Linked DNA regions of Homo sapiens: all the other regions are linked to region 1. The links come from fine-mapping of genetic effects on gene expression. A gene starts in region 1. Each other region holds a variant in brackets. All regions are shown on one strand. Distances are between the middles of the regions.

Region 1 (6,267 bases):
ATACACAAACATTAATATAGTAGTATACCACGCAGCAAGCATCTCATGATATCGGAATGTCTGAAATCCAGGACACAATGGTTGACTCCACCCTCTATTTTTAGAGGTCACCTGACCTGATCAAGTAGTAGTTAGTAGTGGTAGAATACATTAGCAGAGCTGGACGTAGAGAGAACAGAACACCGAGATCCCCATCAGTCTTTCCTCCAGATTACAGGGCTGATCCATTCCATTAGACAGCTTAAATAACACTTCAACTCTATCACTGCAATGTTTCTTCCTACCAAAGAATTCTTGCCCCCAAAAACTAGTGGTAGGAAAACTGCCAGTCACCCAAACGCACCCTCCTCAGATTCAATGCCAAAATAGAAAACACAAGTCCAAATTCTAGGGCTTGGTGCAAGAGGTTCCATTCCGGGCAAGTGAGATGGGGCAGAAGTCAAGAGCTCTGCACTGGCAGGGACTCCATCTCTGGCTCAAACCAGGTGGATTCAAAAGCTCTGGTCCTGCTGCTAGAGCTGTGTGACTCAGAGGTAATGCTTCCCCCAGTCTCTGTTTTCTCATTTGCAGAATGAATCTAAGCACATGAGATAATTATATGTGAAGCAGTGCCTGGAATGAAGTACACCTCTGTAAGCACAGGAGCAGCAAAATATTCACTCCTACACCCTTAGTGCCCAGTGCAGTACCCAGTACACCACAATCACACCAAAAGTTTGCTGAGTGAAGCAGAGAACTCACTAAAGCCAGCCTGAGGTTCAATCAAAATTCCTGGGCCCAACCTGTAAGTGGGCCCCTAACTTACTCCAAACCAGGGACCCCCATCCCCTAAACCAAGAATGGCCTTGATTATTGACAAAGGAAGGGTCTGTTCATATGTTTCAGGTAAGGCACAGCCTAAGAATCTGCCTCTAAGAAGCCTCATCACATCACAGTCCTGTGTTCATTTCATCCCAAAAGATTGGCACTTTGGGCTGCCCTGGCATTCCATTGTCTCTCTCTTCATTTTTAGAAGCAACAAGCTGACAAAATGACATCTCAGGCACCTGACTTTTGTAAGTGCCCTTTAAAGAGGCCTGGGAACAATTCCCACAGCTACGACTCTACTCTGCTAAGGCAAGATTTCTTAGCTGAAAGGTATCACCTACTAAGAAATCCATCACAGAAACAGATACAGTAACAGAGTCAGAGACAATTCCACTATCTGCCTTCATGTGGTTCCTGATTCTTAAAACTAAAAGATGGACTGAGCTATTTTTAAATGGGGAGACTGAAAAGGCACCAAAAACGTTCTCACAATCCAAAGCACTCATCCCTAGAGCACGCTTATTTGGCCAGAAAAAGAAACTCTCTGGCTCTGCAAAAGTGAAGCAGAATGCAAAATTGCATCTCTCCCCTTGTACCAAAAGGAAAAAACGCAAAAATGGTTTTACAAAAGGTCCAAGAATCTTTGAAATACGTTTGAACTTCTTTCTGAGAATTATGGATATTCCTTCTCAGACCTTTACAAGGATAACGGAAGAGGTAAAAAGGAGAGCTTGGGAGCAGGAGAGGGAGAGAGTTGGGATATGTACATTCTATTTTTAAACCCTCGCCCACAGTTTAGAGTAAAGGAACACTCTGATTCTCTACTCCCACCCCTATCACCTTCTGCTAAACACAAGAATCAGAACCTGCGCACGTACTGATTCCAGATTTAGAGATTACTGGCTGCCAATACTCCAAGGAATCGCAAGCTAACCAAGCATTCCACCCAGGGAACCCGGCGGCCTGACTAGGCTGGAGCTGCGTACAGGGAGCGAAGCAGTCACAACCCACCTTTTCCCAAGGGGAGGCAGCGCCCCCTCGGCAGGGCACGCTCCATTCTCACGGTTGGGCACTCAAGGCTGAGCAACTCTGCCCCTAAGGGAGCTGGAGCTGTGGACACGATGGGATCTGCCCGCTGGCTGCGGCGCGCTCGGCACTCTGGCCCCACTGCTGGGACACCTGCGTGCCGCGCACGCCCACGCCCACCCGCGCTGCCCCAGAGCACCACCCGCGCTGGGTCACCTCCCGACCATCCCTGAACGCAAAAGGCGGAGCGACGGGTCTCTCTCTTCATCTGATGGTTGCTGGTTCGCCCGCTTTACGTATCCTTCCTGCCTCGGAGGCGTCGACACCCGTCCCCCAGTGTACCGGGAGCAGAAACCCGGCAGACGCGCGGGCAACCCGGGCTAAGCGCCACCTCCCAGTTCCTCCCGCCCCGGAGCCGCGTCCCCGAGGGGCTCGGGACACTCACTCTTGAGCGCGCTTATGAGTGACTTCCCGTCCTTGATGAGCTCCTTGATGAATTTGTTGGTCTTGTCCAGCTCTGCTTCGTGCGACTTGAGCGTCTCTCGGAAGTGCGGACTATCGAGGCAGCAGTCGCTGAACTCGAGCGCTGGGAGCCCCATGGTGCGCGCGGCGCCCAGCCGGGGGGCGCGCCTCCGCCGGGGCCCGGGCCGCCCGCCGCCCAGAGCACTCACGCGGCGGGACCCCGGCCGGCTCCCCCGACGGCCGCCGGCTCCACAGGTGTGGCGCTGGCTCACTCCGCGCGCGGTGTCCGCCGGCGCGCAAGACTCCCGAACCGAGCTCGGACCCGGCCGAGGTGCTGCTGTTCCGGGCGCGGGCAACGGAGCGGATCGCGAGCAGGAAACGCAGCGCGGACCCGCAGCGGCGCCGGGAAGCGAGCGAGCGGGCGAGCGAGTGCAGACGCCGCCTCCCCGCCTCCTTCGCTAGCTAGCTCTCGGCAGCCTCGAGCGCCCTCTCACAGCAGCCTCGGCCGCCCCGCCGGTGTCTGGGCCGCTCGAACCTGCTAGCGATGACTTAATCCCCGCCGGGCCAATCAGCGCACCCTCCCCTGCCCGACCCTCAGGCCGCCCGAGGACGCCCGGCCCTTCCGCGGTCTTGATCCAATCAAAGGGGCCTGGAGGCAGGGTCTGCGGCTGGGGGCGTGGCCCTCGCCAACGCCTAGGTCCGCAGCGCAAACTCCGCCTCCTCTTGCCCTCCCAGCGTTGCAGACCCCGAAACCTAGGGGTGAGCGTTGCTGTGCACCCGCCCCCGCTACCTTGCCCGCCTGCTCCAGCCCGAATCCGAGCCACGCATGGCGAGTCTGCTGGTCCTGGGGGCCGAAGAGCCTCGATGTGCCAAGCATGAAAAACCTGGGGACTAGGGCTGCAGTTCACCACCGCCTGCCCTGCACTGCGGGGCAACCGATTTTACACTCAAAATACAGCCCCCTGCTCCGGGAGAATCCCGAGCGACCAAACGCTCCTCTTCCAGTCAGGCAGAAAAATGTTATTTGCATCTTAAAATTACCAGCTCTTGCCTGCAGTCTTCCCGCCCCCTACGGTCCGTCCCCCTCACGGCCACTCCTGCTCAGAACCCGCCCACGGTTCCCCTCAGCCGAAGGAGCTCACATCATTACTAGAATTTCAGCCGCCTGTTATTTTCCTGCTCTGCATCTAGCACAATTTTACATAATAAGATGACAGTCTACTGCCTGTCATCCTTCGCTACACGGTAAGCCCCACGAGGGCAAGTGCCCCTGCAATTTTCTTGTCCGCTGTTGCATCCTGGCACCTAGCACAGTGGCTGGCATTTAATAACAGATATTGAGCACTTACTATGTGCTGTGTGTGCTACGGTGATTGATAAATGTAGAATAAATGAATGGATCCTTTCCCAGAGCCATCTCCACCTCCCACGCCCAGTGCGTTGCCCTGTAGTCCCTCTGTTCGACCGCAGGACTCAATTCTGGCATCTCACTCGTTGCACTTGTCAGGCTGGGTCCCACAGGGTGTCTAGTGCTGAATTGTTAACTCCTGGAGGATAGGGACTGTCCTTGAATAAATTATCTCTATGTCTAGGAACCAGCAGCCCTCCTTCAGCTACGTGGGGGCTTCATGTTTGTTTGGGTTGGTTTGTTTTTTAAATAGGTCTGCTATGTGCAGGCACTAGCCTAGATGGTAAGAATACAAAGATGAATAACAGAATGAATTTAGCTGCTGGTGGTATTAGGTGAGATGGAAGCAAACAAGCGATAACCATGCCTTGTGATAGGATAGAAGGCCTGGGTGCTTGGGAACATGGATTTTTCACTCAGGAGGGGTCAGAGGTGTCCCATCTATATTAAGAAAGCAATTAATGTATTAAATTCATAAATGGAGCATGGTGGCTCACACCTGTAATCCATAACTTTTGGAGGCCAGGTGAGAGGATTGCTTGGGGTCAAGAGTTCAAGACCATCTTGGGCAACACAGCGAGACCCCCCCCATCTCTACAAAAAATTGTAAAATAAATAAGTAAATGTATAAATAAGTGAATGTGATCTCTTTGATAGGTGTATCTACAAATTTAGACTTGATAGCAGGTCCAGACAGCTATCTGATAGATAATTACAACCCAAAAACAATTGTTCTTCACTTGCCAAAGATGAGAAAGATCTAGAATGGAAACCCTATGAAAGTAAATCTGTTTAATGCTTTATCTTGAGCACCTAAAGGTAGGTGTTCTGGTTATCTATTAATACAGAATAAATGATACCAAAAGTTAATGGTTTAAGACAACAGCAATCATTTTATTTTCTCTCACAATCTCTGTGGGTTAGAAATTTAGGGAAGCCAAAGGCTTGAGGTCTCTCATGTGATTGCAGTTGGATGGTGACAGGAGCTGGAGGAGTGGATGGTTAGCTGGGCATCCCACTTTTCAGGTAGACTCAGGGCTTCTCCATATGGCCTTTCTCTGTGGCCCAGTTTAGGCTTCCTCCCAGTATGGCAGCCTTAAGGCTCCAGTGTGAACATATACAGCTCACAAGGAGAAAGGTGCATCACCTTTTATGACCTAGCCTTGTGAGGTGAGAGGCCTGCAGGACTTGTTTTCCAATCACAACCCCACTGATCAAACCAGGATTCATTCCAAACGGGATTCAGTGAAGCAGCCAGCAGAAACCAGCAGGCAAGGAAAAAAGACACTTTTAGTTGCCCTCACTGCTCATTAGCATAGAGACACTCCCACCATTGCCATGACAGTTTACAAATGCCATTGCAACAGGCCATGGCAATGGCCTGGAAGTTACCTTATATGGTTCTGGAAACTCCCTGCCTCCTTTCCAGAAAGTTCTAAATAACCCACCTCTTAATTAGCATATAATTAAAGGTAGGTATAGGTACAGCTGCCAACAGCCCTGTACACTGCCCATCCTGAGCACACTCCCTATGGGATAGCCCTGTTCCACAAGGAGCAGCACTGATTCAATGAAAGTTGCTTTCTCTTACCACTGGCTTGCCCTTGAATTCTTTTCTGGGCAAAGCCAAGAAGCCTCCTGGGCTAAGCTGCAATTTTGGGCCTTGCCTGCCCTGAATCACTTGGAAGCCACATACTTCTACCACCTTCATTGGCTACAAGCAACTCATAAGCCCACCCAGCTTCAAAGGAAGGAGATTAGACTGTACCTCTTGATGGGGGAATGACAAGAATGGGAGATATTATAGTAGCTATTTCTGAAAAACATAATCTGCCACAGTGGGCCCAGCATAAATGGTAACATTCAATACATGCTAAATGAATGAAATAAAATGTGATCCACAATTATTTGTTTTATCCCATTGAGGAATAGTAGGCAAATGTGTGTAAAATAATATATATGTATTAATAATAACAACAATAATATATCAGCTATCATTTGTTAAGCTCTCAGTTTATGCCAGGCACTATGGTAAATTATTTACATGCATTTATAGCTGGCATAGTGGCACACGCCTTTAATCCCAGCTACTCAGGAAGCTGAGACACAAGAATTGCTTGAGCCCAGGAGGCAGAGTTTGCAGTGAGCTGAGGTCGTGCCACTGCACTCCAGCCTGGGTGACGGAGAGAGACTCTGTCTCAAAAAACAAACAAAAAAATTATTTACATGCATATAATCCCTACAGGGTGAGACTGGTACTATGATAGTTCCCATTTTTTCAGATAAGAAATTGAGGCCCAGAGTTGTAACTTGAACCAGCTTACCGAGATAATATTAATAATTCTATGTGGCACAAACATATAACTTAATATGCCCATTCACAGACAAATATGTAAATATGTGAATAATGTGTAAATTTCTCATAAATTTAATATGGAATTTCCACAAAAAACCTCCCACACTTTCAGCAGTATTACTAGAAAGAGAGAATCAGAATGCAGCAGTACAGGCTGGGTGTGGTGGCCCAAGCCTGTAATCCCAGCACTTTGGGAGGCCTAGGCAGG
Region 2 (6,267 bases), 250 kb before region 1:
CTGGACAACAACTATTTGCCAGTGCTATGCATCTTAATATGGAATGCTGGATTGTTCCACTTTGGCATATGGGATGATTCCAAGAGGTTCACAAACATTTCTCAGTTATACTTTTATTTTAATGAATATTAGAAATCTACTGATTTATCACACATAGCAAAATATATTTCTTTTTTAAATAAACTGAGGTAAAAAATGGATGAATTGGTTTAAAACCAGTAAGCAAATTAATAATAAAAGTAGTATATGTATATATTTAAAAAGTCAGCCAGGTGCAGTGGCTCATACCCAGAATCCCAGCACTTTGGGAGGCCGAGGCAGGTGGATCACTTGAGGTCAGGAATTCGAGACCAACCTGGCCAACATGATGAAATCCTGTCTCTACTAAAAAAAAAAAAAAAGAAAAAAAAATTAGCTAGGCATGGTGGCAGGTGCCTGTAATACCAGCTACTTGGGAGGCTGAGGCACGATAATCACTTGAACCAGGAAGGTAAAGGTAGCAGTGAGCCAAGATTGTACCACTGCATTCTAGCCTGGGTGACAGGGTAAGACTCCATCTCAAAAAAAAAAAAAACACAAAAAATCATGAAGGTGACAGAAATAATAAATTGGGGAGCTCAAGTCCTAATGTGTCCCCAAACATGCACTATGTTCAACCTGGCTGAAAGAATGAGATGGGAGAGGACCATATTCTACCTGTAAGATATTCTGTTCCAGTAACATCATCCTTGATCTTTGCTTTCTCTCACACCCTATATCCAATTCACACACCACATCCAATCCATTAACCAATCCTGTCACTAATAACTTAAAACCGTATCCAGAATCTAACTACTCTTCACCATATCCATTGCTAATACCTTGATCCAAGCTGCCATCATCCTTTGCCTGGACTGCCTGCAGCAGTCTCCCAGCTGCTTCAATTTTGCCCCCACCCCCCACCCCCACCCACCCCACTACGGTTTATTCCCCACCAGCAGCCAGAGTCATCTTTTAAAAACATACATCAGCTCATGTCATGCACCTGATCACAACTCTCCAGTGACTTCTCTTCACACTAAGAATGCAGTCTTATCTCCTGGCCCCACATGGTCTAGCCCCAGCCTACCTGACCACTCACCCCCAGGGCCTCCTCCCATCCGGGCACCACTGTTCTTCCTGATATTCCTAGAACACAAGTAGCTCACGTCACCTCAGGGCCTCTGCACATGTTGGTCACTCCATCAATAACACTCATCTACCCACTCCTGACACGCTTCCCTCCCTCCCTTTGTTCAGATTTCTTCTCAAATGTCACCTCTTTAGAGAGACCTTTCCTGCTCCAGGTATCTAAAATCACTCCCTTCTCCCTTATCCTCTATCCACCAGCCCTTATTTTTGCAGAATACTCATCTCTACCAGAAATTATACCTTTATCTACTTGCTTACTCTTTGTTGTCAATTTCTTTTCATTGTATATGCTCCATGAGAGCAGAGACAATCTGCCCTGTTCATGACTAATCTCAATAAATATGTCCTGAAAGAATAAATACAATCCATGTTTTCACCAGCTGAAAACACAAGGAGCCGACAGGCCAAAAGTCTCCACATTCCAGGAGCCTTGAATAGTGACAGGTGGCTGCATATATTGGTACCTTCTAGAGTTCAGGCCCCTGCAGTGGGAAGCATGAGACAAACAGGTTTGACAGAGATCTCATTCATACCCTGACCTCAAAGCAAGAATACTGCTAGTCAGACTTTTCTTCCCTAGCCTACCAGATACAAAGGCATCTATTTTTTTTTCATTGTTTCTTGAAAACAAACACACAGAAAAATAAGCTGAAAGAGACATAGAGTAAAGTAAAATAGGTAGCAGGAACAGAAACAAAAATCTGCCTGGATGGGAATAAACCTACCAGCTCTCAGCCACAGTCAGGGGAGGTTCTAAAGAGTGTTCCAATTCTTGGCAAAAGACAGGCATCCAGGGTGACAGCACGTAGGTTCTTGCACAGCACAGGCTGAGGACTATACATCTGCCTGGGATGGAAGGAGTGTTTCTTTGTGGGTTTCTACTTCTGCAATCTCCTAGTCCACCTTAAAATTCCAAATCAGAATAGCAGCAAAAGAGCAAGGCTTAATGCACACTGCAGTAACACTGACCAGCTTAATCAGGACCATTTGTCTCCTACATGGGGATCTGGACATTCTGAGAATGAATTACACAGTGGCCTCAATTCCCTTCTGCCTTAAGGCCCGGTGGTTTTGCACTGATTTCTCAACCGAAAGAGATCATCATCAGCTTTCTGAGGGTGGAAGTGTTTCAAACAGAGAACCAACTGCCTCTGCCCATCAAGGTCACTTTCCTGCCTTTACCTATCTGTCTTCTTACCTCGAAATGCTTTAAGAACAATTTGTTGGTCACAACAAACTCTGAGGCAGCGAAGGGCAGGGAAAGAGAGGGCATTCAGAATCAAAGGCCTAAGATTTGAGCCCTGGTGTCTCCACAAACTGCTTGTGTAAGCTGGGCATACTTCACCTCTCTGACCCATTCCCCTCACATATAAGATGCAGGTGTTGTGAAAATCAAATAAGGCAATGCCCGGAGGAACTTTAAAGAGACTGTACAGTGCCACGTTTTTATATAAACGGGCTCTGGCTTTGGATAATGATGACATTATTGGTAATAAGAATAAAGCGCAACATTTAATCATTGCCGATAATACCAGGCACCATTGAGCAAAGGATGTCCATCCTAATCTCATTTATTCTTCCAAAAAAACCAAAGATTTAATTATTAAAACTATTCCCACCTTCAGACAAAGAAACTGAGGCTTGGAGAAATTAATTTCTCAAAATCACACACTCAGTAATTCTTGAGGCTGGGATTTCAAACCACGTGTGGAATACTCCAGAGCTAACACTTCTAAGCACTACTCTACCCTCTGCTCAATCTTACATGCCGATTGTGAGCTGCAGGCTCT[G/A]ACAACTCTGATCAGTGCAGGGAGTGACCAAGTTTGCCCTCAGAATGAAGTCTCAGTTTTCACATCTGTAAATGGGGTCAATAATAGTATCTAGCTCATAGGGTTCTTAGGAGGATCAAATGACATAACGTATATCAAGCAGTGAACATGTTGCCCACTCCCCAGTATGTACTCAATAAACATTAACCACAATAACTGGAAGCCTGTACTCGGTGGCAGTGGGGGAAATATTTTAGTCTCTGTCTCAATAACCCCTTGCACTGGGCTTTAGGGGTTAAAGATGTAGCCAGGGACCTGCTCACTGTCTCTTGGCTGAAGCCCAAACTGGGATGGCAACGGGTGGCTCACACCTGCTCAGGCTGCAGCCTGCTGTCAGTACAGAGCCCACATCACTGAGGGAAAGGGGAATATTAGGCCATGGCAGAGGCATACACTGGCTGCATCTGCCAGTCTAAAGCTAGCTGAGAGAGAGGGTAGATTTGTCAAGTGTCTTTTAGGACAAGCAGAAAGGCTTCTGATTATCCATGCAAGTCCAAGGAGTACCACCACCAGTCATAGCTTTGGGGGCCAGGGTCTCATCAAACAAAATAGCTGGGAACTCAAATAATAAAATATCTGCAAAAACAAGCTGTTCCTGCCCCTTCTTCTCTCTCCAGCCCCCTGCCCTCCGAGCCAGGGCTATTCTAGAGCTGGGGTATTACAGCTCAACTAAATGTAATTCAAGCTCAATGCACCACAGCAACTGTGTTGCACAGGCAACTCATAATGAAAAGTGAGGTGTAGAAAGTCAGCACCTAGGGAGAGCTAGAATTATACCACCTCGCCTGACTGCGGCTCAGAAGATGAAAGTGGTGGCCACGGAAACTGCATGCACAGGAGAGAGGAGAAAGGGGAAAGAAAAAGGGTGTGGGGAGGAGGGCAGGAAGGAACGCAGGCAAGGGAGGGAGGCAGAGTGTCTGTCCTCTATCAGCTCAGACCTGGCAGGCCTGGAGAGAAAGCTGGAGGGGATGCTGCACTCAGCTGACTGCCTCGTGGGCCAGTGCATAGGCGGCCAGGCCACTGTGCCCATTAATGCCTTCCACCCTTCTCAGGTTTAAAAGGGGAAATGTTCTATTTATAAGCCACCGACCAGCAGAGGCCTGGCAGCCTCTGGATGGTTCTGATCCCAAAAGGATCCTGGTTACCGGTGGCTGCCTCCTCCTGCCTCTCAACTGTGGGTGTTCTAACAGCAAAAGGCCAAAGGTGACTAGAAGCAAAAGAAAAACAAATCCTCTTTTCTGCCCTCTGCTGCTTTCATGAGACGGTGGATTTTTGGTAATGGCTGAAGGCTTTAGATGTCTTTTAAAAATAGTGGCCCAGGCGATCCCATCAAGGCTTTCCCTACAGTTTTCAAGCCTAAATCTCCTTTTCTGTTTTACAGATCAAGGGAGGCTGAGGAACAGAGATGAAGGAAATGTACAGTCAGAGGCACAACAATAGGAAACAGAGCAATGGTAATGATGTCCCTCCCCATCTCCTCTCCTGGTCCTCAATCTTGTCCTCATAAAACAAGGCAAACCTGAATAAAACGCCATCAGGGAGTTTGCTCTGAATGACGGCCTAAAGAAGGATGAGTGGATGTACAGAAACAACATATAAAGCATTATGTTGTGTTGCCAAATCCCTGTGGGAGAGTGGTGGGCCACACTAAGGGTCTGACCCTGGGGAAGCCAGTCAGTGAAATGCGTGACCCTTGTGCACCCAGCACTGTGCACAGGTGTTTGAGGAACCACTGAGGGCTCTAATGAGGTGGTGCACTAAGAAGGAATATGGGATGGCCCCTCAGCCACAAAGAACTAGAGGGGTTAGATGTTGGAGTCTGATGATGAAATTCCTTCCAGCCCCCATGGGTGGACCACATATGAACAGGATGGCAGAATGGATCAAAGATTTCAAGCATATGAAGTGTTGCAGGAAAAAAATGACCCTGGCAATGAGGCAGGCTAGGGTTTGAGTATGAGCTTCACTACTTCTCAACTGTGCTCCCTTGACCTCTTTAAGCCTGTGAGCTCCTTTGGAAACTCAGTTGCTGTGAACAGCATTTGTACAAATGGCAGCCCATCGTGTGACACTTTCATGCTCCCTCTCAAAACCTCATGCCATCCCATTTAGACTAATTTTAAAAACTTAGCCTTGTGTTAAGCCAAGGGTTAATAAACTACAGTCCCTGGGCCAAATTCACCATTGCCTGTTTTGTAAAACAAAGTTTTACTGGAAAACACCCACACCTGCTCATTTCCATATTGTCTGTGACTGCTTTCACACTACCATAGCGGAGTTGAATACTCCTATAAAAATAAAAATATTTACTATCTGGCCCTTTACTAAAAAAAGTGGACCCCTGTGCTAAGCAATAACATTTGTAAAATCAGGGGATTGGCCAGGCGCAGTGGCTCATGCCTGTAATCCCAACACTTTGGGAGGCCGAGGCAGGCGGATCACCTGAGGTCAGGAGTCCGAGACCAGCCTGGCCAACATGGTGAAACCCCATCTCTACTAAAAATAAAAAAAATTAGCCAGGTGTGGTAGCAGGCACCTGTAATCCCAGCTACTAGGGAGGTTGAGGCAGGAGAATCACCTGAGCCCAGGAGGCGGAGGTTGCAGTGAGCCGTGATCACACCACTGCACTCCAGCCTGGGTGACAGGGGTCTCAAAAAAATAAATGAAATAAAACAAAATAAAATCAGGGGATTTCAGAGAACTTATGTTCCCCCACAATACACATCAAAATAAATACAGAAGTCTAGATGGTAATTTAAAATATACTCTCTCAAATGACCTAGTGTACCACCAGTGGTGTGCACACCCCACTTTGAGAAATACAGTAACGAGGATTAAATGAATGAACACTCATAAAGCACCAAGACTGAGAAACAGTAGCAGGTTGTCTTCCTCCCTTCAAGAGCAGTGTTACCAATCCAGCTGGCTTTTCCTTTCCAGTGGGTTTTTCCTTTTGTTGTGGGAGTAACTGGCCTGGCCAGATGATAAGAGTAATAACCAAGAGTAATTAGGCACTTACCAACTAATGTGCAGATACTAATGTGCTGAACTTTCATTCTTACAATGAGTTTATGAAGCAGGGGTATTATTATCCCCATTTTACAGAAGAGGAAATGGAAGCTTAGAGAGGCGCACCACCTGTCCAAAGTTCTACACCCAGGATGCTATTCTACACCAGCCACACATTACTCCTCCATGCAAACCCTCTCTCTAATCCACGTGGCGGAATCTACCCAAAGAGAATGATCTGAGATACGTACAAAGGCTG
Region 3 (6,267 bases), 270 kb before region 1:
AATGTCATATTTCTTTTCATTAGTGTCATCTTACATAATAATCTGTCATCTTTGAAATCTCTCTGCCCCTTCTGTTCCCCCATATCAAGTTGGTTAAAAGTCCTGTTGATTCTCTCTGTATACTCACTATGAGTGTGTCCTTTTTTCCTGACTTCAGAGCACCTATTTAGTTCAGTCTTTGATAGGGTTTGCCTTGCCTGATCTATTACAACCAACTTCCTCCTCCATGTCTTTCCATAATCAAACACATGCTCCAAATTGGAGCCAACAATATGCTCCTAATGCTAGAATCTGATATTGTTACATCTGTATTAGATATACTTTTTTAAAAAAGCTAACAGCAGCCATTATTTCAGGAAAGCACTTCTCCATCTTCCTATCAATAATCCTGCTCAGTCCACTGGGTTTCAGGGACTAACCCCGTCCCCACCCCAACTGTCCACCCCATCCCCCACATCCCCCAACATACGCACAGGATCCAGGCCATCTGCCATGGGCCATGTGACTGGTCTGAGATTGAGAAACGAATCATGTGAATGGCCCCATACTGACCAAGCAAAGTCCTCGCTGGAGCCTTCTGCCAACATGGTCAAGAAAGGCACTTTCTTCTCAGTGACCACAGGCTCCAAGGACTGCAGAGGCTGAACCTGTCTGGGACACTCCCACAGAGAACAAAGCCACACCAAGCCCAGAAGAGGTCAGAGAACATGAGAAGCCAGAAGAAGGAAGGGGCAAAGGATCTAGCAAAAGTAAAGACATCATTGGCATCCCTGACTCTGCCATGCTTCTGTCTTGGATTTACCAGTTATATGAGCAAATAGATGCTTTTTTTTTCCTTGTAAACTATTCTGAATTGTCTTCTTGACACTTTTGTGTGCAAAAGCATTATAATGGATATAATCCCACTATTGAGAACTTTTAATAGTTTCTTACTTCCTATAGAAAAAACCCCAAACACCTTGGCTCAGTATTCAAGTTCCTCAACAAAAAAGACCACCTTAGCTATTCAGCTTTAAAACTCTCCTGTCCCAGCCTCAAGTTAAGTCTTTCAGAAATATTAAAATAATAATCATAGAATCAATACCCTTTGCTGTAGCCACCATAGACCCTTTGTTCAGAATACTTCATGAATTGGAATTATTCTTCTACTCTCTCCTTCACTACACTACTCAATCTTCTAGACCCAGCACAGATTAAGCATGAATATCATACTTTACATTACAGCTTTCATATACACACATATTTCACCCTATCAGGACTCCTTACAGAAAAGGAACAGCTCTTTCTAAAATTTAATCTCTAGCACCTGACATCTGTTCTAAGCAGCAGACACCCCACAAATGTTTGCAGCTCTGGTCAGAAATGAAAAACTAAGGATTGACACCTATTAGACTCTTAATTCTTCCTTATATTAGAAATTCTCAAAAATTGACCCTATCGCCATACAACCCAGCAATTTGCACACTCGGACATTTATCCCAGAGGAACAAATATATGCTCACACAGAAACTATATATGAAAATTTATAGAAGCTTTATCATAATTGCCCCAAACTGGAAACAACTCAGGTGCCCTTCAATAAATGAATGGTTCGACAAAGTGCAGTACATCCATACAATGGAATATTACTCAGCAATAAAAAAGAACTATTAATACATGGAACAGCAAAAATAAATCTTGAGAAAATTACACTGATTGAAAAACAATGCCAATCCCAAAAGGTTCTGTATTGTATAATTCCATTTAAATAATAATCTTGAAATGACAAAATTATAGAAATAGAGAACAGATTGCTGATCGCCAGGGGTTAGGCACAGGGTGCAAGGTGGGAAGTGAGGTATGTGCTTGTACAACATCACAAGGAATCCTTTTAGTGATGGAAGTGTTCTGCATCTTGACTAAATTAATGCCAATATTTTGGTTGTGATATTAAAATTGTGTTTTGCAAGATGTTACCTTTAGAGGAGACTGAGTAAGTGGTACACAGGATCTCTATATTATTTCTTACAACCGAATGTAAATCTACAATTATCTCAAAATGAAAAGTTTAATTTTTACAAAAACTAACCATATTTCAAATCTTAACCAAAAAAAACCCAGATACTCGTTGCTAGAGTACCTCGCAAATAATCATAGTTTTAAACAACAGATCTCACTCTAACTAGCAATACAATAGGGTTTTGGCTACAAGAAGTGAATGACTCTCTCAAAAAGAGGTGAAGACAGTCATTCTGGCCAACATGAGAGAAGAGATTTCTTTACACAAGAAAGCTATTTTCAGAAAGTGGGATGGCAAAAGAAATTACAAATACTAACACAAGAACTGTCCCTGTCCAAAACACTGAGCTGCGTACCCCAAGTGATAGTCCCTCTCTACAAGCCAGGGCTTCCATGGGGAGGAATAACAGCCTCTGTGAAACCTGATCTGTTTGCCATTTAGGTCCATGTGATTCATGGAGGCTGGCTGCACTCATATCTAAAAATACAGGAAATCTGCAGCCTAAGCAAATTTGGCTCATGGACTCATGGGCTTTTGATTCAAATACTGCACATTTGGAGACACTGCTTTGTATTTATATCAGCCAGTGGCAAAGGAGGTTCTGCTGCTCAAGTGACAGGTATTCGGTTGAAATCTAGAAGCAAAGAGGATCAGAAGATTTCTCTGGTTATATATATTTTATCTGAGAGTTACATGACACCTGCTCAGTATCAGGAACATGAACTCTGAGGTCCTCTGGAGCCCAGAATGATGCCTTTCCTTGGGCATTGGGTGTGTCCCACTAAATACCTGTCCCAAAAGAGAACGGAGGGAGTCATAAGCTATTAAAGACAGAGTAGGGTGTGGTGGTCACATGAGTGACTGAGTGCCACTTGGACCAGAGCACTGAGCCTACAGACAGAGAGGGTGTGGTGTCTGGGCCCTGGCATTTTTTATTTTGTCCAGTCCTACTCAGAACCTTTCCCAGCAGTGTCTGAAGCCATGACAACTGACCGATGGGGCAGATGACTTCTAGGTGACAGCTCACGGACACCCCGATTCCTTTGCCACAGGCTGTATCTACTCACAGACCTGGTGACTTTTCAGAGTGGGCCCCCCATCCAGGGACCTGCCTAGCAGAGCCACTGCGGCACTCACCCATCAGGACACTCAGCAACTTCTGCACTCTGGAGTTGACACCCACAATTCGATACAGCCCTTGCTCGTTGATCCCTGAGGAAAGAAACAGTGATGATTTAATTAGAGGCACGTCAGAACACAAGTCAGGCCAATCCAGCCAAATGCACTTTTTTTTTTTTTTTTTTTCATTTTCTCAGTCCTCCTAAAAGCTGCTCTAATTAAAGTCCCCTGTCACTCAGCTCAGCTCTTAGCAAACGAGTGGGATTTGGTACAGCTGTCTAGGATTTCACGGATGTGCTGCACACTTCAGCCCTCATGTTAGTTCAGTCATCAGCGGCGAAAGAAGCTTTCCTTTCTCTTGCCAAAGGCAGCATCTGAAGAGTTCTAAAAGATGCAAAATGTACACTTTTAAATATGTCATATTTAACCAATTTTTAAAATTAAAATGCCAAAAATGACATTAAAAATTCATACAACAGAAAAAGACACTTTATAATCTATTTTTACACA[A/T]AAAATGAAAATACGGAGGTGTAAGAATGTTTTTAATTTTAAGGAATGTTAGCCAAGACTGAGAAATTAGAAGATCCATTCATTTATAATACAAATATTCTTTATCAAAAAAGACCACCTTTATTTCAACCCAAGGAACTGTACAATTAGACTAGTAAGGGTTTACTTTTAAATTAAACATCTAAACAAAAAATCAAAAACTAATCCACTGCAGTGTTTCTGTTCATTTAAATACATGGATTAGATCACCACTGTACCATTTACAAAAGAAGGCAATTTAGACCAGGTGACTTGAAATGATTTTTCTCCTATTAGTTCCAGGCCCATCATATCTGACCCCTCTCAAGTAATAGAGCTCCAGCTTCCTATTTTATTCCTCTGATGTCCATTCTTCAACCAGTAGCCAAAGTGAACTGTCTAAAGTGCAAATTAGTTCATATCACCTCTTCTCTTAAAACCCTCCAATAGCTTCCCATTGCACTTAGACCATAATCAAAACTACTTACAATGGCCTATAAGGCCTATACTATCGAGCACTGACTACCTCTGATTGCATCATTGACCACATGCATTCTGCTCCACACACTGGCCTTCCTGTCACCTCAACATGCCAAGCTCATGGCCCCACCTCATAGCCTTTGCTCCAGCTGTTTCCTCTACCTGGACTGCTCTTCTCCCAGAGCTTTTCATCATTCAGATCTCAGCTTAAATGCAACCGCTTCAATCTAATGCAATCCACAATCAACATTACTGGTCATTCCCTTACCCTGTTTTCTTTCTTTATAGCAGTTAACAATATCTGAAATTATGTTTGTTATTTGATTATTTACTTGTTTTTTCTGTTACATTCTCAATAGAATGTAAACAGTAATTGTGTCCTGTTCACCATTACATCCTCAGTCCCTGGATCAGTATATGGTACATGATAATAAACAAAACACGAGATTATACTCCATCAAGGCCAGTATAAAATACTTGGGGGCCAAAACACAATCTTCCAAAAGAAACTCAGGAAAGGACCAATTCTGCAGTACTTTCAACAAGACCTATGTAGACATGGAACTAATGAATAAAAAGAAGTGGTCTGGAATGATAGAATTTTACAGCTAAAAAGGACCTGTAAAATCATGTACATCATTCTGCATGATTCACGGACTAGGAGTCCCTGGTCAAAAACTTCAAAAACTAAGTGATGGGTCCCAAGTTACTCAGTGGCAGAAACTTGATTCAGTAACATGTCAGCTTGTGGGCTTGAAAAGTCTTAAGTGTCTCTACTTCTTCTATCCTTGTGCTTTCCCGGGACTTTACACAATCCCACCTCCCACTGGACAATTGTCAAATCCCAGAGAGTATGGGAAGTCTGTTCATCTCTGATCACCATAAATACGTATGCACATACACACACTGCAATCGGGAGATACCCACTTTTTTCAACTATTTACGCTAAAATGGCACCTAACTCATACTGTCCTTATTTCTTCTTTGTGCTCAATGAAGACTTTCGTAGAAGTTAAAATACATCATTTCCATTTTCATTTTAGAGGGGGAAGAGGAACTTGTACACCTCTTCTTCTCCTACTTATTGTATTTATTTTGTAGTTTTACATCAGAAAAAGTTGTCCTCCTGAGCTACCAGTTTGCATTTACTACAGACTCTGTGAACAGTTTTAAATGATTAGGTTTCTCTCTTGATTTTGGCTGCTGAAGACTGAGAGACGAATAGGTGGCCCAGCTCAAGCAAGTATATGAACTTTACTGGGGAAAGAGATTTTTTTTTTTTAGACTCGCTTTTGGCTCCATTTTTGTGCCTCTACCTTTAAACTCTGTACATTTTATTCTCGGTCTTTTCTTTTAAATTTAAAAAAAAAAATTAAAACTCCTGTTGAAAGTTAGACCGTGCACAGTGGCTCATGCCTGTAATCCCAGCACTTTGGGGAGGCCAAGGTGGGCAGATCACTTGAGGTCAGGAGTTGAAGACCAGCCTGGCCAATGTGGTAAAACCATCTCTACTAAAAGTACAAAAATTAGCTGGGCATGGTGGCAGGCGCCTGTAATGCCAGTTACTCAGGAGGCTGAGGTAGGAGAATCGCTTGAACCTGTGAGGCCAAGGTTGCAGTGAGTAGAGATTGAGCCACTGCACTCCAGCCTAAGCAACAGAGCAAGACTCTGTCCCCTCCAAAGAAAAAGAAAAAAGAAAAATTACCTTAGTAATGAACACTTCAAAAAAACTTAGAAACTACAGTTAAGGTAAATAGATGAGTCAAAGGGAAACAGTAAAAATCAGCAGACAGCCACTGAGAACACAATGAAACCTGTGCAATATGACCACTCCTCTCCCCACTGCTCCCAGAACGGGCTCATACTGAGCAGCTGCTTTGTAACTTGCATTTTTCACGTATTATAAATAATTTTTAAAATGCCATATGTCTGTAATCCCAGCACTTTGGGAGACCGAGGTGGGTGGATCACAAGATCAGGAGATCGAGACCATCCTGGCCAACATGGTGAAACCCCATCTCTATTAAAAATACAAAAATTAGCTGGACGTGGTGGTGTGTGCCCGTAATCCCAGCTACTCAGGAGGCTGAGGCAGAAGAATCCCTTGAACCAGGGAGTTGGAGTTTGCAGTGAACCGAGAC

Alleles and levels. Positions count from the first base shown, and alleles are read on the strand shown. Sizes are in standard deviations (SD) of each study's normalised expression. Not every link is listed here.
As copies of G replace A in region 2, the expression in testis of the gene that starts at base 2,817 in region 1 goes down (small effect, 0.37 SD a copy in GTEx).

Evidence for each region.
Region 2: its variant is fine-mapped to the expression of ARHGAP26 in testis (GTEx, PIP 0.91).
Region 3: its variant is fine-mapped to the expression of ARHGAP26 in whole blood (TOPMed, PIP 0.93).

Annotation. Positions count from the first base shown.
Region 1 is chr5:142,766,927-142,773,193 of GRCh38, reverse strand. ARHGAP26 (Rho GTPase activating protein 26) reads right to left here and starts at 2,817. Exons shown (of 23, transcript NM_001135608.3): 1 at 2,279-2,817. The coding sequence starts at 2,432. RefSeq lists an enhancer at 1,343-2,178 and silencers at 2,474-2,593, 2,604-3,013.
Region 2 is chr5:143,021,483-143,027,749 of GRCh38, reverse strand. The region is part of intron 12 of ARHGAP26 (Rho GTPase activating protein 26); the gene reads right to left. Among named protein-coding and RNA genes, the nearest start is that of ARHGAP26-AS1, 160 kb to the right of the region's middle. RefSeq lists an enhancer at 5,755-5,844. The variant G/A (reference allele first, on the strand shown) is at 2,961.
Region 3 is chr5:143,038,760-143,045,026 of GRCh38, reverse strand. ARHGAP26 (Rho GTPase activating protein 26) reads right to left here. Exons shown (of 23, transcript NM_001135608.3): 14 at 3,137-3,211. Among named protein-coding and RNA genes, the nearest start is that of ARHGAP26-IT1, 150 kb to the left of the region's middle. The variant A/T (reference allele first, on the strand shown) is at 3,629.